Linked DNA regions of Homo sapiens. The protein of the gene in region 6 interacts with the protein of the main gene of each other region in a biochemical or structural test. Each region holds a gene or a part of one and is shown on either strand. Other genes may lie near its edges. The genes, in order: CAPN2, CASP3, BMF, PPP3R1, BNIP2, BCL2 and NLRP1.

The links.
Region 1: the proteins of BCL2 (region 6) and CAPN2 form a complex in vitro, tested with the Homo sapiens proteins (one study listed by BioGRID).
Region 2: of the proteins of BCL2 (region 6) and CASP3, one has a biochemical effect on the other in vitro, tested with the Homo sapiens proteins (one study listed by BioGRID).
Region 3: the proteins of BCL2 (region 6) and BMF interact in a test that uses a peptide from one of them, tested with the Homo sapiens proteins (one study listed by BioGRID).
Region 4: the proteins of BCL2 (region 6) and PPP3R1 form a complex in vitro, tested with the Homo sapiens proteins (one study listed by IntAct).
Region 5: the proteins of BCL2 (region 6) and BNIP2 form a complex in vitro, tested with the Homo sapiens proteins (one study listed by BioGRID).
Region 7: the proteins of BCL2 (region 6) and NLRP1 form a complex in vitro, tested with the Homo sapiens proteins (one study listed by IntAct).

Annotation. Positions count from the first base shown.
Region 1 is NC_000001.11:223,750,539-223,754,038, reverse strand, and holds part of CAPN2 (calpain-2 catalytic subunit), read right to left. Parts: intron 3,150-3,500; coding exon 3,064-3,149; intron 2,043-3,063; coding exon 1,968-2,042; intron 1,244-1,967; coding exon 1,083-1,243; intron 1-1,082. UniProt on the Homo sapiens protein: Calcium-regulated non-lysosomal thiol-protease which catalyzes limited proteolysis of substrates involved in cytoskeletal remodeling and signal transduction. Proteolytically cleaves MYOC at 'Arg-226'.
Region 2 is NC_000004.12:184,629,822-184,632,447, reverse strand, and holds part of CASP3 (caspase-3 isoform a preproprotein), read left to right. Parts: intron 1-51; coding exon 52-180; intron 181-507; coding exon 508-683; intron 684-1,290; coding exon 1,291-1,411; intron 1,412-2,626. UniProt on the Homo sapiens protein: Thiol protease that acts as a major effector caspase involved in the execution phase of apoptosis. Following cleavage and activation by initiator caspases (CASP8, CASP9 and/or CASP10), mediates execution of apoptosis by catalyzing cleavage of many proteins.
Region 3 is NC_000015.10:40,089,635-40,091,879, forward strand, and holds part of BMF (bcl-2-modifying factor), read right to left. Parts: coding exon 2,153-2,245; 3' UTR 1-2,152. UniProt on the Homo sapiens protein: May play a role in apoptosis. Isoform 1 seems to be the main initiator.
Region 4 is NC_000002.12:68,183,033-68,186,532, forward strand, and holds part of PPP3R1 (calcineurin subunit B type 1), read right to left. Parts: coding exon 3,436-3,500; intron 1-3,435. UniProt on the Homo sapiens protein: Regulatory subunit of calcineurin, a calcium-dependent, calmodulin stimulated protein phosphatase. Confers calcium sensitivity.
Region 5 is NC_000015.10:59,679,321-59,682,820, forward strand, and holds part of BNIP2 (BCL2/adenovirus E1B 19 kDa protein-interacting protein 2), read right to left. Parts: intron 3,195-3,500; 5' UTR 3,138-3,194; coding exon 3,088-3,137; intron 989-3,087; coding exon 921-988; intron 449-920; coding exon 272-448; intron 1-271.
Region 6 is NC_000018.10:63,309,770-63,313,269, forward strand, and holds part of BCL2 (apoptosis regulator Bcl-2), read right to left. Parts: intron 1-3,500. UniProt on the Homo sapiens protein: Suppresses apoptosis in a variety of cell systems including factor-dependent lymphohematopoietic and neural cells. Regulates cell death by controlling the mitochondrial membrane permeability. Appears to function in a feedback loop system with caspases.
Region 7 is NC_000017.11:5,513,618-5,516,063, forward strand, and holds the end of NLRP1 (NACHT, LRR and PYD domains-containing protein 1), read right to left. Parts: intron 1,901-2,446; coding exon 1,856-1,900; intron 1,457-1,855; coding exon 1,137-1,456; 3' UTR 501-1,136; downstream 1-500.

The DNA.
Region 1 (3,500 bases), on a different chromosome or scaffold from region 6:
TCTTAGAGATGGAGGTGATAAGAAAGTGCCTGCCTCAGAAGTTTGTTGGGAAGGTTAGATAGAATGTTATGCAGGCTGAATATCCCTTATCTGAAATTCCTGGGGCCAGAAGTGTTTCCTATTTTGGATTTTTTTGGATTTTGGAATATTTGTATATACATAACATATCTTAGGGATGGAACTCAAGTCTAATGACAAAACTCATTTCTGTTTCATATATAATTTATACACATAGGCTGAAGGTAATTCTATAGCATATTTAAAATAATTTTGTGCATGAAACAAAGTTTTGACTGTGTTTTGACTGCGACCTGTCACCTGAGGTCAAGTGTCGAATTTTCCACCTGTGGTATCATGTTGGGGCTGAAAAAGTTTTGGATTTTGGAGCATTTCAGATTTCACATTTTCAGATTATGGATCCTCACCCTGTGTACAAAACACTTAGGATAGTTCCAAGCACTGAAGGTGTGCCCCATAATTGGCAGATGTCATCATGTTCAGACAACTGCTGACGGACTAAGCCATGAAGGCAGAAGAATCAAGGGGCTCAACAAAGGCTGGACCAGAGGAGAAATCTTCACCCCATCTGGGCAGCGCCCAGTCAACATTTGCTGATTGAAGTGAGTATGGGGCAACAAACAGGGCCTGATATGTGGAGGGCTCCCTGGGTGCCGGGACAAGGTTCCCTTGTAGGCTCGGCTGCCTGGGTGTGGGGTGCATAGAGCAGCTCATGGCCGTGAAGTGGGATTGAGCACTGCTTCCGTGAGCATGGCGGAAGGTCAGGCTGAAGGTCATGATGGGCGCTGGGGAATCTAGGGCCTGGAGAGGACATCACAGAAACAGTGGCTCTTGGGTTTGTCCTGGGTAGGGCAGGAGGTAAGGGATTGAGAAAGAGAGCTCGGGGAGAAAAGGCTCAGGGAAAAGAAAAGGCTCAGGGAGAAAGAAGACAGAGAGGGTTCCAGTGAGCAGGAGCTGCCTCCTGGGGCTGCTAGGCTGGGGTGTGGTACACAGGGTGGGGTAAGGGGAGCTTTGGCCTTTGGTGGCCCCGCATTGCAACAGCCCTTATATGCAACAGCCCTTACTCGGGTAGTTCCTGCAACCTCCCGCGGTGGAGCCCCGCCTCCAGTTCCCATCCATTTTGGTGAGTTTCCACTTCTTGTAGGTATCGCTGGTGAGAGTGTCTGGGGTCAGGTTACAGATCTCCAGGCGGGAATAGTGCCTCAGGAAGTCACTGAAAGACATCCTGGCAAAAGCAGAGACAATCATCACAGGTGATAAGAAGACACACTGGTAAGCCTTGACTTTCCACCAACACCAGACCAGGAGCCACCCAAAGCCAGGCAGAGCAGCTCATTAGAACTGAGTGGATGGGCACCAGGTTCAGAATCAGAAGGCCCAGATTCCAGTCCTGGCGCTGCAACTTTCTAGCTGGGTGACTTTGAGCAGGTTACTTAAACTTCTCTGAAGCTCAGAACTCTCACCTGCAAAAATGGGAGCCGTGCCCATCAAATGTGACAATATATGGGCCCCATTTGATAAAGAGCATGTTGTGTCCAGGTGCAGGTGGTTATAGAGTGGCGCAGACACACAGACATGTGGGTCCATTGCTGCTCACTAAGGGACCAGTTTCTTAAGGGGCTGGGATGAGTCTCCGGAACCTGGGGGAGAAAGGCCCCATCTTTCCCTTGTTTCCTGGGATCTGAACATTACCAAAGGAATTCCTCTTAGCCTTTTTCTGAAGCTGCTCAGCTTATAAACCCCATTGTCAAGATGGACCGTTGAAGGGGCTTAAGAATTTCTTTATTCAGGCTCTTATAGTGAACTTAAAATAACAAAACCAGGATCCCACACGCTTGTGTCCTCGACATGGTAAACTCACTTTGGCCGACACTCTTTCTAATTAGCAGTTTTCTAGTAAAGAACATTGGGGCAGACAGAGCTTTCCCTGAAGCCTCCACTAATCTTACCAGAATTCTCCATCTTCATGCCGTCTGGTCAGCCTTTCCCTCTCCTCTGGGTCTATAGTGTTCCAGCTTGGGCAGCTGGAAAACAAAGTAAAGAGAGAGGCGTTAGTGTACGATGATTTCTCCCCAAAGGCCCCAGAGTTGAGGAAGAGGGACATCTGCTCTCACCTCTGAGGGCTCAGGCTCCAGAAAGGGGGAAAGTAGCCCACATCTGGCTAACAGCTGCATTTTAATACTCTTACAGCACTTTAAAGAGTATAGAACACTATACAGATGCAAACCAGGGAGCAAAGTGAGCGGGTGAGTTGTGCTGGAAGACAGTGGCAAGGAAGAGTCCAGAAAATGAACATAGTTCATTAGAGGGAGATGGAGTAGCTCAGAGCAGTTGCCCAATTGAGATGGGCCTGGCAGCTCTTTTAGAGACAACTGAAGATCTGATGAGGAGCCTCCGGCTGAGGCCTGGGAAGCCTCAGCAGGTGTCTCTCTGTCCACGGAGCAGAAGGACCTGGCCCTGTACACAGGGGCAGTGCACAGGGTAAACTAACCACTGCCTGAGCTTTGGCTGGAATTACACACAGGCCTCTGTACTGCCCACCTCTCCAACCTGAGGCAGAGCAAGTAGGCTGAGGTTGCCACAGCAGATGTACAAACAAGTGTTTACCCCAAATAGTTGAGGGTTCAACATGCCTACCAGTAAGCCCTGGAAATCAACAGAGGGATGTTTCTCTGGCCTTTGGTACAAAGTTCACATCCCTGTAATAGAAGTGCCTGGGGGAAGGTGGGGTGTATTTTTTTCCCTGAAAGCCCCATAGAAGGGTGGATTTGAGCTAGGGAAGGGGTGAACCTGGAGGCAGTGGCAGGAATGAACTTCACACGAGCAGCTTGGGGCCTGGAAGAAGGCACTCAGGCTGCTGGAGGAGTGTCCTGGTTAAAAGACCCTTTGAGGGGCCCCTGTCCACGGGTCCCTGTCCACGTGGCCTGGGCTCTCCTGGCTATATTTCTCAGAATAATGCACATGTCTTCTTCTCTCGCCCTCTTCCCAGAGCCTCCCAGCACAATGCACCCCCGCCTGGGGCCCCGAGGCCTGCGCCCTCCTCACTTGTCATTCCACCGCCCTGTCCACTCCACTTCTCCCCAGGGATTTCGGATGCGGATCAGTTTCTGTAGGCTTCCGTTACTTTCAACCTGCAGGATTAGATAAAAGGGAGGAGTAAGAGGTTGAGTTCAAGTCAGGGCTATGAAGGCTTGGGCCTCCAACCCCCTTCCGCATGAGCCAGGAGGTATGGGGCTGAGGACGGTGGGGAGGATTTGGGGGTTGAGTCCATGTATGAGGGAGGATCACAAGAGCTAGAGGGGGCTTGGCACCCAGACCTCTCACTGCTGCCTAGCTTTGGAAAATGAGATTTAAAGCTCCCAGGATCCGGCTCTCGAGGATGGGGCTGTTGGTGCTTCATCTCTGAACTTCAGCTTAACTGACAGGATGCGCTTTTGGTAAAGGAGCTCAGAGAAGCTTTACCATTTGTTGAAAGATCACTG
Region 2 (2,626 bases), on a different chromosome or scaffold from region 6:
TAGTTATTCTTTGTTTTCCATACAATTAAAAGTAATTCTTTCTGTTCCAAGGAATGACATCTCGGTCTGGTACAGATGTCGATGCAGCAAACCTCAGGGAAACATTCAGAAACTTGAAATATGAAGTCAGGAATAAAAATGATCTTACACGTGAAGAAATTGTGGAATTGATGCGTGATGGTAAGAAGAAACAATTAGAATGAACTTCATTGTACAATTAATTTTATACTATGGTCTAGCAATAATTATATGTATAATAAAATATGAGAATTGTGGAATTATACTGTACATAACCCTAATCTTACATACTTTAGTAAGAAGTTTAAAAAAAGTTATTTATGCCAACTTCCTAAAATGGTTTGAGATGTGTTGCCGTGCCCCAGGTTAGGTTAAGATGACCTCTTAGTTTTAGTCTCAGTTTCTTCATCATGTTCCCATACAGTATATCTGAAGTTGTTGAATAAAGTCATGGATTTTTTTTCCTTTTATTTGCAAATGTCTTTACAGTTTCTAAAGAAGATCACAGCAAAAGGAGCAGTTTTGTTTGTGTGCTTCTGAGCCATGGTGAAGAAGGAATAATTTTTGGAACAAATGGACCTGTTGACCTGAAAAAAATAACAAACTTTTTCAGAGGGGATCGTTGTAGAAGTCTAACTGGAAAACCCAAACTTTTCATTATTCAGGTAATGTCTAACTGAGTGATTTGGTTATTGACGATTAAGCAGGGGTTACTATTCTCAACTGTAAATTATCCAAAGGATAATTTTTTTCCTGAAGCTAATGAACTATTGTTACTTTTCATTTATTTACCACTTAAAAGATATAGAGTAAATTTTAATTTTATACTTATATCAAAAAGACTCAGCATAATTAACATCCTTTTTTTTTTTTTTTTTTTTTTTTTTAGACAGAGTCTTGCTCTGTCGCCCAGGCTGGAGTACAGTGGCGCGATCTCCGCTCACTGCAAGCTCTGCCTCCTGGGTTCACGCCATTCTCCTGCCTCAGCCTCCTGAGTAGCTGGGACTACAGGCGCCTGCCACCAGGCCCAGCTAATTTTTAAATTTTTTTTTAATAGAGACAGGGTTTCACCATGTTAGCCAGGATGGTCTCGATCTCCTGACCTCAAGTCATCCGCCCGCCTTGGCCTCCCAAATTGCTGGGATTAAAGGCGTGAGCCACCGCGCCCGGCCAATTAACATCCATTTTTACATAGCATTTCAATTTTTTAGAACTAAGTTATGTGTTCACACACAAATTTTTATAAATAAATATTTATTTTCTAACACCCAGGCCTGCCGTGGTACAGAACTGGACTGTGGCATTGAGACAGACAGTGGTGTTGATGATGACATGGCGTGTCATAAAATACCAGTGGAGGCCGACTTCTTGTATGCATACTCCACAGCACCTGGTGAGAACGTTACACATAATGAATGTTACATGTGGATTTTAAATGAATTAACTGTGACTGATCATAGAATTATACAATGAAAAGTGTGTTTCAGAGACTGTCAAGATTTTGATATCCCTAAAGATATCAAAACTTGTCTATATTTTAGGGAACCTTCATCAAAGAGAAGTCTCAAAAAGTTGTCTTTAGCCAAAAGTTTGGCTAGAAAATATGCATATATAGCCAGGCACAGTGACTCACGCCTGTAATCCTAGCGCTTTGGGAGGCCGAGGCAGGTGGATCACTTGAGGTCAGGAGTTCAAAACCAGCCTGGCCAACCTCATCTCTACTAAAAATACAGAAAAATTAGCTGGGCATGGTGGCACACGCCTGTAATCCCAGCTACTGGGGAGGCTGAGGCAGGAGAATCGCTTGAACCTGGGAAGCAAAGGTTGCAGTGAGCCAAGATCGCACCACTGCACTTCAGCCTGGGCGACAGAGTGAGACTCCGTCTCAAAGGAAAAAAAGAAAAGAAAATATGCATATGTAGAGTAGACTAGCACGATGTCATTCATTGGACTTTATCAGGTAGATCTCCGCTACTAATATCAGGTAGAATATTACGTGGCAACAGAGGCCAAGTCAGAGCTTCCCCTGCATCTTAGAGAAGAAGAGAGGTACGTTTCTCAGGAGTTATTTGAAAGGTAGTAAATAAAAAAGATAAACATGACTAGTATACAAGAGGATAGATGTGGAGTGGGAGAAAAGAAGGTAAAAAACGATACATGAATGTGCCGTTAACCTCCACGTTTTTACTGTTCTGCTGCACACGTCATCATCTAAATAAACATTTGTGGATTATACCACCATTTACTCACACAGCTAAGGGTGTCGGAGAGTTTGGAAACTTTAGGTAAATGTATTCTTAAGCAGTGTTGCATTTTAAAATATGCTCAATATGGTTTATCTTATCCTCTAGGCATCTTTCCAAGCAAAGTACCTCTAAGTTAAAAGCAATGGGTCTAATAGTTAACCTAGAAAAAAAAGTATGATAAATATACTATTTTCCCTTTTTGGACCAATACTTGGTAGTGTGTTTATTATACTTTATTCAGATGCTCTGTAGACAAGTAGGACACTCAAAGCAATTTGTTTCTTGGCTAAGTCAGTATTAAAATAAGGTGAAATCTGATTGGAACACTGTGCTACTTACAATGATCCTTTTTATACATCTTT
Region 3 (2,245 bases), on a different chromosome or scaffold from region 6:
CATTTTCTCTCTCACTGAACTCAGGTGGAGAGTCTGCCAAAAGGGGTGAATAGTGGCTGCTGTAAATAATCCCGGTTTTTTGGTGTGTGCCACTGAAGCATACGGCAGCAGGCTGCCTGTCACCACCTTGATCCAGAGAGGGGAGAACAACGTATGTCCCATACACATCATAAAATGGTATGGAGACCCACAGGGAAGGCTGAATTTCACAATGGTCAGTGTGTCCCAGAGCCAGTCTTCAAGCTGGTCCCCGGCTCCTTCTCTGCAAAGCAGGAACCCGTCTTCTTAGCAGACAAATCATGGTACACACCCTGAGAATAGAATTCTGACCAAGAAGAGGTAATATCCAGAATATCTGAGCAGAACAAAACAAAGGCTTACATGCACAGTTTGAGGCCCTTCTCCTCCAGGGTGCTGTGAGCCCATATGGCACCTTTGCAAATTAGGAAAGGCACCCCTTCTTCTTGGGAGAAGTAGCCCCACACCAGGGCACGCACACAGCTTAGTGAGCAGAACACAAGCTGAATTCCAGCCTCCATTAGCTGCAGGTGCCCTTGTGCAGTGAACAACCTGCACAACTGTACATCCAGAAGATCAATGTCTCCTTCAATAGTACTGAAGACCTCCTCTCCTCAGAACTGGAAGACTTGGGCTTGTTCAGATTTGTGAGTCTACTCTAGACTCCTCCTATTTCCTTGGGTAGCCCTGAGGTCTTCTTTGTCCAGGGAAGCCGTCTTTCCTTTGGGCCTTACTTCACTGTTAGCACCAATGTTGTCTTTTCTCACATATGCAAAAGTTATAATTTAGTTTCTAGCGTCTGGTTAACAGATTCCCTGTGCCTGCTATCGGAGCTGCCACACCGGCTGCTTTAGATCCTCTCCATAAGTGCCGCAGCAGGGAGAGAAGGGAAGACGTGCACAGGCAGCTGTGATCCTGCTGGGTTCCAGAGCATGCCCTTCTGGCCTAGCTGGAAGCTGGAGGAAGATAGGAAATGTGTACCCAGCTTTGACGGTTCCCCACTCTAATCGTTATCTGTTACTCTAAAAGTCACTTAGCTGGCAAAGCCACTGTCCTGGCTTCTTCTGTATCCCACTAGGTATGAAAAAGGACTGGGGATAAGGGGGAAGAGGTATGTTGTTTCCAAGGAAACCAAGGGGTCTGGGGTCCCCTACGGCTGACTCTCATGGTAGGGTGGCCACCATATTTTCCGGCCCCACTGCAAACTTGCCCCCGATGTCCCTCAGTGCCGATGTTGGGGGTGGAATGCGGTCTGTCGGTGGGGTCTTTTGAAAGAAGAGCTGACAAAGGCACAGGCTGCCAGCAGCAACATGCTGACTGGCTATTCGGCTCATCCGTGGCTGACACCCAGCTGGTCCCAGGCCGCCAGTGGTGGCAGTGGCTCTGTACCTCAGGACCAATCCTGGGGCCTCCAAGTGGGACCAAGTCAGTTTTGAGGCCTAGCCAGAAGTTTGGTTCATTTTGCGACATGTTTGAGGGGTCCTTAGAGAAACTCAACCCTCCCTGAGGTCTGCTGGAGGTGGCAGGAGCTGGCCAGGAATCCTTGAGCCCATGGGGCAGGTACTGGCTGAGAAGTAAGAACCCAGTCAGATGTGGAGCTGGCCGGCCAGCCTAGTGAAGCTGCTATCCTCAAGTGGAAAGCCCCTGGCCGAAGCCCTGCTGGGTTAAAGCAATGTGACCATCAGGATCACGGCCCCCATCCACAGTGGAAGGCTCATAGGTTTGGTGGAACTGGGAGTCTAATCCACTCTCGATTTCTTAACTGAGTTCCTCTGGAAAAACCACAGTCCACTTCCCAGAGAACATCACTAACGGATCATCTTCGACAACTGGTAGATTCCTCAGTCGAAGAATCTACTTGTCAGAGCCCTTGGGAATTCTCACCATCACAGACACATCAGCCTCTCCTTCAACAGTGTTTGACAAAGGCCCCCATTCCAGGTCAAGGGCCTGACAGAGAAAGAAGGTCCCGCTTGAGTATGTTGTATGTACACTCAGAGAGAAATTAAAAAAAATTAAAACACAAAATAACAACAAAAAAACAATTTCACAAGACACAGTGTCAGTCCTGCCCGATGTCCTTCCTGTTCCAGACGGTGTTCCTGGTGCCCCATGTGAAGAGGGCAGCCCACCCTCACCTAGGGCCTGCCCCGTTCCTGTTCTCTTCTCCATTCAAAGCAAGGTTGTGCAGGAAGAGGAGGATCTGCCACCACACACGATTTTGGTT
Region 4 (3,500 bases), on a different chromosome or scaffold from region 6:
GGGGATCCTCCCTCTCACCATGCTGGACCCTCTGCTTCCTGGATCCTACACTCTCTACTTGTTTGATTTATGACCTTATTGCAGTGGGAGCACATCCTCCAGTAGTTTCCAAAATGAGAAGGCCTTACATACCTAAAAGTGTCTTTCTACTACCATTTGAGTGTATAGAGAATTTTAAGTTGGAAATAACTGTCCCTCAGAATTGCACAGGCAAAATGCTCCATGTTCTTGTGGGTTTCCCACACTGCTACTAAGAAATCTGGTGCCATTATGACTCCTGGTTGTTTATATGAAGCCCTTCTCCCAGCACTCCACCCTACCACCCCAGCTCTTTGGAAATCTGCAGAACCAGTTATTTGTTCCCACTGTCTCAAAATTTCATGACAGTGTGCCCAGGTCCAGATTATTTTTACAGACTATGCTAGATGCTCCATAAGCCCTCTCAGAAAACATATTATTTTTGGCTTTGGAGTATTTTCTTGATTCATTTTTGATTATTTATTTCCCTCCATTTTCCTTCTGGAATCCTGGCATTCGGGTGTTACAACTCCAAAAATAGGTATGTAAAATTACATTCCCAAGAGCTTTTTTATATATTATCCAACTTTTGTTTCAAAAATTCAATATACAATATCCCCAAGGATAATGACAGGTTTCAGTTTTCCTTTTAAAATTTTTACTGGTCTTGTCTAATCTGTTTGTTTTGAACTTATTTTTTTGGACCTGGTTTCATCTTTATATTCCATACACAGAGGTTTCCTTCAGTGTTTGGTGAGATCCTTGGCTTTGCTTCTGTAGAAAGGGCACTGGAACTCTGGGTGAATGATGGGGCTGTTAAGTGAGAGCTATACTTTGAATGATCTGGTAGCACCATTTCTTTGGGGAGATAAGATTTCCTAAAGAGGGCTCTTTCCCATCTCTTACCTAGACAGTGTAAGTCCAGCTGCTAGGGAGTCAGGAAGTCAGGTACAGAACAAGGGCACAGATGCCAATATGCAAATATGCTTACTGCCACTTAGCTCCCCAACACATATACCTCATCTCTGCCTCATGTTTCCCAGCCTAGAGACTCTCCCCAATCTCTTGATAGGGTGCAGGAGAGAGAGCTGTCCAGGGGAACAGAGTAGGGAAGGCGATCTTGTGTGTTCCAGTTCCTTCTTAAAACAGACTTTAACCAGTCTTTCTGTTTTTAGCCTCACTTTCATCCTCACTTCCAGTTGCTTGTGCCATCAATTTCTGAGCCTTTCACGGATTCTCCATTATAACCCAGCTTGTTTCTCAGATTTCCAAGCTGATAAAGCTTAGAATCATTCTGCTAGGTTAGTTAACCATTCAACTTTCTAAACGTTCTAAATTACCAAATTTAGATGCTGTCTCTTCTCTGCTCTTCATTTTTGTCCTTGTGAGTACATAACCCTTTCTAATTCATTGCATTTTATTGGAGTTTGGGGAGGAGGTAAAAATAAATTATACATGGGTTCAATACACCAACTTTAAGCCTGTCACTAATCATCTGTAAGAATTATTTGTATACATTAAGTACTCTGAAAATTTTAAAGTACATATATAGTATGCAATCTTTTAAAATAACTTCCAATCTTTCACTGTTATAGCTTGAGAAGTCAACATAAAAAGAACTCAATGAAGCCAGTTACAAGCGCTTGATCAATGTTTAGAAAAGTTGGTTTTAAAAACACAACGAACATTTTTCTCCACTCGTAAACTATGCCCCTTAAAAATACAAGCAAAAAGCAACTGATTACAAATACTGGTGGCCAGACACAGTGGCTCGTGCCTGTAATCCCAATGCTTTGGAAGGCTGAAATGGGACGATCGCTTGAAGCTAGGAGCTGGAGACCAGCCTGGGCAACATAGCGAGACCCCTGTCTACAAAAACTTAAAAATGGGCCAGGCGCAGTGGCTCACGCCTATAATCCCAGCACTTTGGGAGGCCAAGGCAGGTGGATCACAAGGTCAGAAGATCGAGACCATCCTGGCCAACATGGTGAAACTCCATCTCTATTAAAAATACAAAAATTAGCTGGGCCTGGTGGCATGTGCCTGTAATCCCAGCTACTCAAGAGGCTGAGGCAGGAAAATCACTCGAACCAGGGAGTCGGAGGTTGCAGTGAGCCAAGACTCTGCCATTTCACTCCAGCCTGGTGACAGAGTGAGACTCCGTTTCAAAAAAAAAAAAAAAGAAAGCTTAAAAATAAACTAAAATAAATATTGGAAAATAAACTCGAAACTTAGCTTATGTCTTCAATATAGATAACAGCATTATTTCTATATATAAAAGATATATTTTAATTTCCTTCCACTGATGTGATATACTTATTACATTTTATATTTGCTAAATGCAAGTAATCTTCATTTATATATTATATTTATATATTTATATTTCTTATATTTATATTATATTTATAATTTATATATTATATATATGTAAAATATACATAAGATATATACATTTTATTTATATATATATATATATCTCCCCTCTTCCAATACCATTGAAGCCAAGAATTTTCCATTTATTTTATTCCCCTAAGGCTTAGAATTTCTCCTTTCCTTCTTTTGAAAACTGGCTGCTATTTATGATGGCACAACCAGCCTGGTCTCATGTCACACTCCACCAAATGCCAGTTCACAGTGACCCTTGGCAATGGTGAAGGAGGTAAAACGGAAGGGACAGAAATGGCTTGCGGTAGCGCCCCCTGGGGGTAGTTCAGTGTCTTAAACGTCTCAAACCCATCTAACTCTTCCAAAAAAAGACGCAGTCTATTCTTTACAGTGCCACCCCACTTTTTGAAAACATAATAAAAAGATGGTTTTTGCTTAAGGATAATATGAACTTCTACTTAAAGGTCAAAGTAGCTACACTTCAGTTCTCACATAACACACAACTATCAAAATCACTTGTTTTTCCTTATATGATTTACATTTAAAAATAAAAAGGAGGAAGAAAATCTTTCTATGGAAGCATCCAATCATTACTGACAGAAAAATTTCAAAACTTTGTTATCTTTGCCTCTACTCTGGATGCTCTAGTTTTCTCTAGTATCTCTAGCTTGCAGTTTAAAATCCTTGTAACACATCAAAAAGCCTACTCTCTGTTTTTAGGGCATAAGTAGAGAAGAGAAGCTAAGTGGTTGTGGTTGTGCTTCTGTTCAGAAGCAATGAGTGATTAAATGAACCTTAAGAGTATAACCTAGTTGTAATTTGAGAGGCTACCAACAATAAGTAAAGTAGTATCCTTGGGAATAATAATTGTTAATAATTACAATGAAGAACACATTTCAAAACAATACGGGCAATTAGGAAAAATCAAATACTTAAGTTTTTAGGACAAAATATGGAAATTCTCTATTAAGTGGTTTTTAAAATATGTTGCTGAAACATAACTAACGGAAGAACCAGCTCTTTTGTACTTACAGCACAGAATTCTTCAAAGGATATTCTTCCATCTCCATCCTTATCTGCATTTATTATGGTTTTGT
Region 5 (3,500 bases), on a different chromosome or scaffold from region 6:
ACTTGATTGACTAAAAAAGAGCATGCCATAATTATCAAGAAATATTTTTGAAACAGCTATGAAAAAAACATGAGAGCAGTGGGCAAATAAGAGGGGAAAAAAGCCACTGGTGTACTCTATACACACTTTTTAAGTCCTTGAGAATATTCAAGGGTTAGCACAATTTCCTATCTTAGTAACAAATATATGAACTTTAGAAAGAATGATGTATTTCAAACAAAATCCCTTAGTACATTAATAAAGATCAGATTAAAAACAGTGAAACATTTACCTTCCCACTCAAACTCATTACTATTCTCTGACGGTGTGTCTAAGCCATCTAAGTCAATCTCCCCACTTTCATCCAAATCATCTGACAATACAGAGCCATCACTAGGATCCAGTGTCAGGCTAATGTCTGGAGCCATTAGTTTCTTTCTCACTTTATTTCCATTAACTTCTAGTGAGCCTGGAATTGGAAAATAAAGAAAAAGATACGTAACAAGGAATGCTTAGATGCTAAAGTTGAATAAGAAAAATTTTAACTACCCCATTCTTGGGAAAAAATAATATTAATTGAACATAATTTCAAAGCACCTATTCACAAAATTTTTATTCTGATCATTATTGCTTCTACATCGTTGGCAAGAGATCAATAAAGTATCAATGTCTTTTAAATAGAGGCAGACCTTATAGATACCTCTTACCACTAAAAATGATCTCCTCCACCCCTTTACTGTAAAACTTTCCAAAAACCAAGTGTATGTTTTTGGAATTTTTTTTAAAGCATTCTAAAAATGCTTTCCTCAATGTTCAACTTATACTTTGACTTCTATGATGGAATAAAAACTCAAGTTTTTTTTTTTTTTGGACAAAGAAACGTGTTTTAAAAAATAACACAAAGTCCATAATTTCAATGAAAGTAAGTGTCAAGCTCTTACCAGGCTGGTCCTCTGGTCCAGTTATAGCTAGTATATCTGCTTCAATACTATCATCTTCTGGTAAAGGTCTAGAAGACACAGGCATACTTTTTAATCCAGAAATTAAGAAAGAATTTTTTTTTGAAGTTCAATCTATTAAACATACAGCTTATAGAAATAATTATTTGGAAAATGGAATAAAGCAGTGTTGTTGTTTTTGAGACAGGGTCTTGCTGTCTGTCACCTAGGCTGGAATACAATGGCACAATCATGGCTCACTGCAGCCTTAACTCCTGGGCTCAAGAGATCCTCCCGAGTATCTAAGACTACAGGTGCGTGCCACGACGCTTGGCTAATTTTTAGTAGAGACAGGGTCTTGCTATGTTACCCAGGCTGGCCTTGAACTTTTGGGCTCAAACGATTCTCGTGCATTGACCTCCCTAAGTGTTGGGATTACAGGCATGAGCCACTGTGCCCAGCCTAGCAGTGTTTAAGATAAAGTCTCAGCCTTCTGAGTAGCTAGGACTACAGTGGCACACCAACATGCCCAGCTAATTTTAAAAGTTTTTTTGGTAGAGACCGGATATTGCTATGTTGCCCAGGCTGGTCTCAAGCAATCCTTCTGCCTCGGCCTCCCAAAGCACTAGGATTATAGGCGTGACGTGCTATGCCTGGCTACACTTTCAAAGTAAAAATTCTGACTGTCAGAGCTGACTTATACACTTATTATATATAAGTAACACATAAAAGTAGATATAAATTCCTTATGCAACAGCTCTTATACAATTATAAAACATGTAACAATTTTAAACAAATATGACTGAAATGCACAAATATAATGTGATGTATGATGCAATGTATGAAGCTCAATTTTTACTCACGAGACTACAGTAACAATGGTTCAATTCTTCTGAGATCAGCATTCCTATATTTACTATCACCACCATATGCAACAGTGACTCAGGTCTCCGATCAGCTGTCCAACTGCTAAGCTATCCAACTGCTAAGGCACCTGATTATGCACTAGGATGTCTTCTGACAAGTACGGCACGGAAGCACTATTTAAACTTAAGGTCTGCCTTTGCTCTCTTTTTCATTAGCCTACCTGGTGCCAATATAATTGTAAATACAAATGCAAACATGTCAAGGTGGCTGGCCAGATAAGCTAGAAAATCCTTATTAATTTACTTAGTAAGGTTTTTTTTTTTTTGGTGGGGGGGAACCCACAAATTTTTTTTTTTTTTTTTGAGATAGAGCCTTGCTCGGTCGCCCAAGCTGGAGTGCAGCAGCGCGACCTTGGCTCACGGCAACCCCTGCCTCCTGGGTTCAGGTGATTCTTGTGCCTCTGCCTCCTAAGCAGCTGGGACTACAGGCGAGCGCCAAGCCTGGCTAATTTTTTGTATTTTTAGTAGAGACGGGGTTTCACCATGTTGGCCACGTTGGTCTCAAACTCCTGGCCTCAAGTGATCTGCCTATCTCGGCCTCCCAAAGTGCTGGGGTTACAGGCGTGAGCCACCGCACCTGGCCACAAAATTAAAGAAACATTTTAAAGACAACTAAAGACCTCCTTCTCTGAGGAATCCCTCAGATCTTGTTTAAATGAAAACAAAAACAAAACAAAACAAACAAACCACACTAAAACACTTTATTATAAAAGCAAAAATTTGCAAACTTAAGTGACCAAAACAAAAATGAAAGATTATAGAAGATTATATATATACTTGGTTGGAAAGTAAGATACAAGAGAATCAATCTAACTGTTCCGAAGAAACTTTACTTCCTAGTATCAAATGATCGCCTTGTATTACTGAGTTTCTCAGTGACATCTCAGCTGTGCAGTGGCTCACACCTGTAATCCCAGCACTTTGGGAGGCCAAGGCAGGCAGATCACGAGGTCAGGAGTTTGAGACCAGCCTGGCCAATATGGTGAAACACCGTCTCTATTAAAAATACAAAAATTAGCCAGGCGTGGTGGCGCACACCTATAGTCCCAGCTACCTGGGAGGTGGAGGCAGAAGAATTGCTTGAATCCAGGAGGCGGAGGTTGCAGTGAGCTGAGATCGCGCCACTGCACTCCAGCCTGGGCAACAGAGCAAGACTCCGTCTCAAAAAAAAAAAAAGTAACATCTCGATAAAGAAATTTTGAACTTTTGCTCTAAAATTGTTTTCTTTTAAAAGCATTGCTCACATCGGAAAATCTTCATCTTGCCATTCTTCTTTAAGTTCCACACCTTCCATCCTCAGCCTGGATTCAATGTCAACTACAAACTCTTGATAATCCAGGGAGCCAATGTCCTATGAAGAGAGAAAAATGTATAACTTAATTTCCACTTTACTTTTTATCCACTGAAAAGGCGTAATAATCTTATATATTAGTTCATACTTGATGTTTAGTACAATGGTCTGGTCATGAAATTCATTTACAGGGTTGCAATTTTTTTTTTTTTTTAAAGAAAAGAGAATACTCAGACTACATATATTCTGGGAAAGTTAAATACTGTTTATAGTAAGGATACTGTTCAGTGAAAATACTTGTTTTCAGTTGCATGTATAGTATCTCAGGTTATGATTGAAAATATATTTCATACTATGGATTATATT
Region 6 (3,500 bases):
CCAAAATCTGAAGATGCTCAAGTCCCTGATATTAAATGAGTAGTACTTGCATATGCACATCCTCCTATATACTTTATTTTATTTATTTGTTTGTTTATTTATTTATTTTTTGAGACAGAGTCTCGCTCTGTCCCCTAGGCTGGAGTGCAGTGACACGATCTCGGCTCACTGCAACCTCCGCCTCCTGGGTTCAAGCAATTCTCCTGCCTCAGCCTCCCGAGTAGCTGGGATTACAGGCGCCCACCACCACACCTGGCTAATTTTTCTATTTTTAGTAGAGAAAGGGTTTCACCATGTTGGCCAGGCTGGACTTGAACTCCTGACTTCAAGTGATCCACCCACCTTGAGCTCCCACAGTGCTGGGATTACAGGCCTAAGCCACTGTGCCTGCCCTACCCCATATATTTTTGATCCAAAGTTGGTTGAATCCATGGATGTGGAACCCAAAGATAGGGAGGGCTGTCTATACAAGTTTCACAACTTAGTATGCAGTGGTAAGTTCTCAAAACTATGGATTTATCTCAGGAGAGTTCTCCATGCCCCAGTCAAATCAGACTCTCCACAATTCCCCAAACACACCTCCCGCATTCATGCCTGCTTTGACGCCTCCAGTTTCCACTACCTGAAAGACCCTCTCCCCGTATCGCCTGCCTGTTCTCTAAAACTTGTCTCAACATTATCTCCGGCATGAAACTCTTCAGATACCACTGTAGCTGGGTTGGGCCTCTCTGTCTACTACACATTGTCCAGGATTACAGTGATTTGTATCCTTGTCTTGGTCTCCTACTGATTGGTAAGTTCCTTGAAGGCAAAAGTTATCTTAGACATTTTTTCGCTTAACTAAAACACCTAGCATAGAGCTTTGCATGGTGTAGGGCCTCAATAAATGTTTTTTTCAATGAAACAAGTTAGTGTGCATGTTTTCCTAAATAACCAGATTCTAAAACCCCTCTCCATGACCATCACTACCCCGGTTCCTGGGAACCCAGGGTTAAGTTTTGTGGACAATTGCTCATTTCCCTCAATTAGGACTTCTTCAAATCATTTTCTTCTTATACTATCACTTTAATGTTTAGTAAGTGGCTTTGTCTCCCTGTTCTTATAATTTTGTTATAAAATACCTCAAAACCTCTCTGTGTGTCTTCAGTGTGTGTGTTTTTAAAGATGCTGGCAGGAATCCATAAAGGATATGGCTAGGAGATAGCCCTGAAATTTTACATCCAGAAATGCCAATGCTGCCATCCTTTATGGACTCGCTTTTTTTTTTTCAAGAAGATAAATCAATATTTAAAGCTGATGATATAATTTGTACTTAATTTTATTCCTATTTTAATTGTAAATCAGATATCAATATATCTGAGATATAGCATTGAACTAAGAAGACTAAGTTTATGTGTCTCATGTTCTTTTAGAAAATTCTAATGCAGCTGAGAGGAATATTTGGCTGCAATTCAATTTCAGAGTTAATATAGAGATATAGCATTCATCATGTTGTAAAGCAGAAAAAATATCATCCTGGTTATCTGCTAAGGAGAGCTGGAAAAAGTCAAGAAGAGACAGCCTGCAACACTGATCCTTTGTTTGGTGCTTCAAGTATTAAAATTGGTAAACTCACCATACTCTGTTGCAGCTTAACTGTCTTTTCGACAGTTAAAAATAAGGAAATATGGTAACTGGATCTGTCACAAGAAAAGATGTATTGGTCTCAATGGAGAAAACCTCCCCTGAAAAATTAAAGCTTCACTTGACACAGTGGGTTCTCGGGTTGTTTTTGGGAGACATGATAATGAGCAGAGTGGAGTCAGTCATCAGTTTCTGACTCATTACATGGAAGCCCCAGAGAGCTGATTATTAACTAAAAATGGAATACGCTTCTATCCCTGAAGTTGTGAAGGCAAAACAAGAAGCAGAATGGAAACACAAATTTCCCCATTGACGCATGTGGCCCAAACGCGATGCTCAAGGGCAGGTGTCTTCCACAGTTAACCTGCTCATGGAATGTGGTTGATCGCCCCAGAAAATCACCCAAGTCACTCTCAGTATATTGCTACAAATGGCCATACCAGTATGTCAGGGAGATTCCCTTTCTCACATGTTTAAAAGGGCGTTTGGGGAAGTAGTCCTTACCCTAAGCTATTTTAGTTTAGTTAGTCAAACATTTATTGAAGTCTCAGGTATAACCCCACTATAATCTTGCACTAGAGGAATCAAAGTAAGTACAAATTTTGCCAGCAGATACTATCTTTTCTCTGCACAGGTTAAAGTTTATAATCACTAGAGGAAAAGGATAGTGTCTGGTCACAGAATTTTGACCTGCCCAGCTGCCTGCAGCAAGTTTGGGGTGAGGGTTATCCTCTCACTTTGATTAGACTCCCCACTTCTGCTCCCTTTTGCTAGTATCTAAGCGCATTACGGTTTTCTTCAGGTAAATCCTACCCATCACTAATTGGAAGTTAACAAGGAGCTACACCTGAGAGGTCCCTCACCGGTGGAATGATAAGGCAGGTAGGGGATGGTCACAGGGGTGGTGGCACCTATGAGAAAGTCCCATGGCTTGGAAGAGAGAGGAATAATCATTCAATCCTTATTCACACTGAAGGACAGATGGGTGTATCTTTTGTCTGGCAAATGGAGGGCAGAGAAATAGTGCTATAGCATATACAGAATTGGGCATATATAAGAACAACAAGTGACAATCTATAAAAATATGTTTTTAAGTGAAAACAGCTTTGTTGGCATTTTGAAAGTTTTACAGTCTCCATTTAAACGAACAGACCACAAGCCCAAAAAAGTCCGAAGGCAAATGCCAGTGTTACAATGGACTGTGAATTTCTGTAACTAGCATCGTAGAAGTGTCTTGATAAATAGAACAGTAATATAACCTCAAACCAAAACAAAACAGAAGCTTTTTTTTCCCCTGCTCAAAGGAAGAGCCCCCGCTCTGGTTCAAAACCTACTTGTATTTTTTGGCATACAAGAGTTATTTAAGAAAGATAGTTCTTCAAATTACCCTGTTCCAGTCAGTCTAATCGGAGCCTTGATTGTCTTTTACTTAAAAAGAATTAATGAAATGCTTTAGAAATTGTAGACTGGTGTTTATTAAGTCTTCTTAGTATGCATAAATAGTGCTTAGTGGGTTAATATTTAACAAGGGAACTCCCCCTGCCTTTCAGTTCTCTTAAGCATATGTCTACGTTACACAGTATTTTTTAAAGTATCTACATTTTGGCCCTGTTTAAATTAGGCCTAATGCACACATGAACAGCCATATGGTCAGAAATAACGTTCTTAGACCAAGGCTGAAGTACATGCAAAATAACTTATAGTTATTTGCTTTTTTCCTCTAAGTCTCTGAGTCTAGGATCATGCTTATCAGGCTGTATGATAACTACGAGTTTATTAAGATGCCTGCAACACTAGCCTGTGAGTTTATCCAGGGCAGAAGCAAAGCTCTCCTTGCCGTGCCTCCAACCTAACCCAAGGCAGGACTCATGTAAGAC
Region 7 (2,446 bases), on a different chromosome or scaffold from region 6:
CTATGCCTCCAGAGCAGGTAGGGATGATGGCCCCTGTTCAGCATGAAGCAGTGACAGAAGATAGATCTCTGTCCTTCTACAACCTCTTAAGATTAAGGACGAGTATGTAATGTCTGAGGTGGGGATAAGATAGGAGGTTGGCAGGACTGGTTTCACAAAGACTCCTCGTATAAAACAGGATGTGGTAAAGAAGCCAAAACCCATCAAACCAAGATGGTGATGAAAGGGACCTCCGGTTGTCCTCGCTGCTCATTATATGCTAATTTTAATACATTAGCATACTAAAAGACATTCCCACCAGCGCCATGACAGTTTACGAACGCCATGGCAGCATCTGGAAGTTTCCCTAAGTAGTCTGAAAGGGGGAAGAACCTTCAGTTCCAGGAATTCCCACCCCTTTCTCTGGAAAACTCATGAATAATCCACTCCTTGTTTAGCACACGATCAAGAAATAACCACAAAAATAGCCAACCAGCAGCCAGTCGGGACTGCTGTGCCTATGGAGTAGGTAACTTCTTATTCCTTTATTTTCATTTTTTCTTTTTTGTATTTTTTTAATTCTTAAATTTAAGTAAAAAATTTTTAATTTATAGGGGTTTTCTGGTAAAAACTGGAAAGCCTGCTAGACAAATTCTAAAAGAGCTGTGATACTCCTTTATTTTCTGAATAAACTTCCTTCCACTTTACTCTGTTGGCTTGCTCTTGTAGATCTTCCTGTACAAAGCCAAGAATCCACGTGGCCTCCCACGCTGAACCCCAATTTTGGGGCTCACCCTGTGACACAGCCAGAGGCAAATGGTTCCATGTCCCTCCTATTCCTCTTTGCGCCTGGATGGGATCCGGAGGGCTCTAGGCTTGGCTGCTGTGGCCACCAGATGAGGCTCTATGAGGTCTGCAGGGGTCTTGCCAGCTCCAGATGGACATTCCCTGAGATGCTGTTAGGCCACCTGGACTGGGGCCCCCTGTGGCATCCCTGGCATGGACACATAATGCCCAGCAAAGGCATCATCAAAGTTCCATTACTTTAGTGCTGGAAGGCAAACCAGATGGCAACTTGTTTGCAGAGAAAGAAACTGAGACCCAAAGAAGGGTCAGCCAAAGCCAGGACTCAAGGGTCAAGGGCTGGTGTTGATACTTCAGCTGCTGAGTGGCAGGAGTCCCTTTTTGCTGCCCTTCTCCCAGAGTTCCATAATGAGGTGAGGATGGGTCTCCTTCAGGGCTTGGTAGAGTCCATCTTTGCACTTCCGGTCCCAGGACTGGCTCAAGCTGAACAGCTTCCGCATCTGGCTGGGCCTCGTGTTCTCAGCCAGCACCCTCTCGTACTGCTCCTGGCTCAGCACCTGTCCATGCAGTTTGTCCAAGACAACCTCCACCGATGTCACTCGGGCTATCAGCTGCTCTCGATACTGGTCCACAAAGTGCAGCAACTGCGGGGCATCCAGAGGTGAAGGTACGGCTGGCAACGAACAAAGAAGGGCTCCAACCACAGCCTCCACCTCCAATCCCCACCTTCAGTGCTTTCCTCTCTCATCTCTGCATCCCTCGCTTCCTTCTGCCTCCAGAAATGCACCTGTGTCCTCCCTCATGGCAGCATCTAGCTTGGCATTCTGCCAGAGTGGGGATCGGGAGTGGGGTTCCTGCTGGGCACATTGGAGGCTGTCAGATAAGGAATTCTAGGGTCTCTGTGGATAGGACAAGGGGGTATGGGGAGCGACCATGCACCGCTCTCCAGGGCCTGACTCTTTGTGAGGTTTGCAGTGATGAGTCCCTTCCTTTCTCTCTTCCCTTCCCCCAGAACCAGACAGTACCCCAGAACTGCCACCGCCTCCTGTGGTCTCTGAGAGCTGTTACTGACCTATGCGGGCTGGAGGGATCAGAGTAGTTGCAGGCATGAGATCTCCTGGAGGAAAACAGAGATGAAGATGCATCTGAAACAGTGCTAAGTTATTAACACACATGGTACACCTCCAAGCTCCCACTCACTTCTGAGATTCTTTGATTTAGAAAAAAGCCACAGACAAATTCTGGTAGAATCTGGAGTAAGAGCTGGAAGGGTCCTTAGAGGTTATTTAGGTGAATCCCTTCCTTATGCATATGGGGAAACTGAGGCTCAGAAGCTGTGATCATACAGTAATAGAAGACATCCAAATGAGCGATAGCAATTTCTCCTATAACATCCCAGACTTGGTTTTAATCCCGTGTTGGCCTGAATTGTATCCCTGGTGAACTAACCAAACCCCTTGCTAGATAGCTTGAACTATTTAGCACCTCCTTGTCTGAGCAGAAATCTACTTCCTTGTTCTTGTTTAGCCTTCTAGACTGGCACCAACCAAAGGTGTACGTTCTGGATTTGGATGTCAGAATCTAGAATCAAGATCAAGCAATCTTAGGACATGGGAATAACAAATTAATTTTAACAGAAAAAACAGACAACGACAAAAATGAA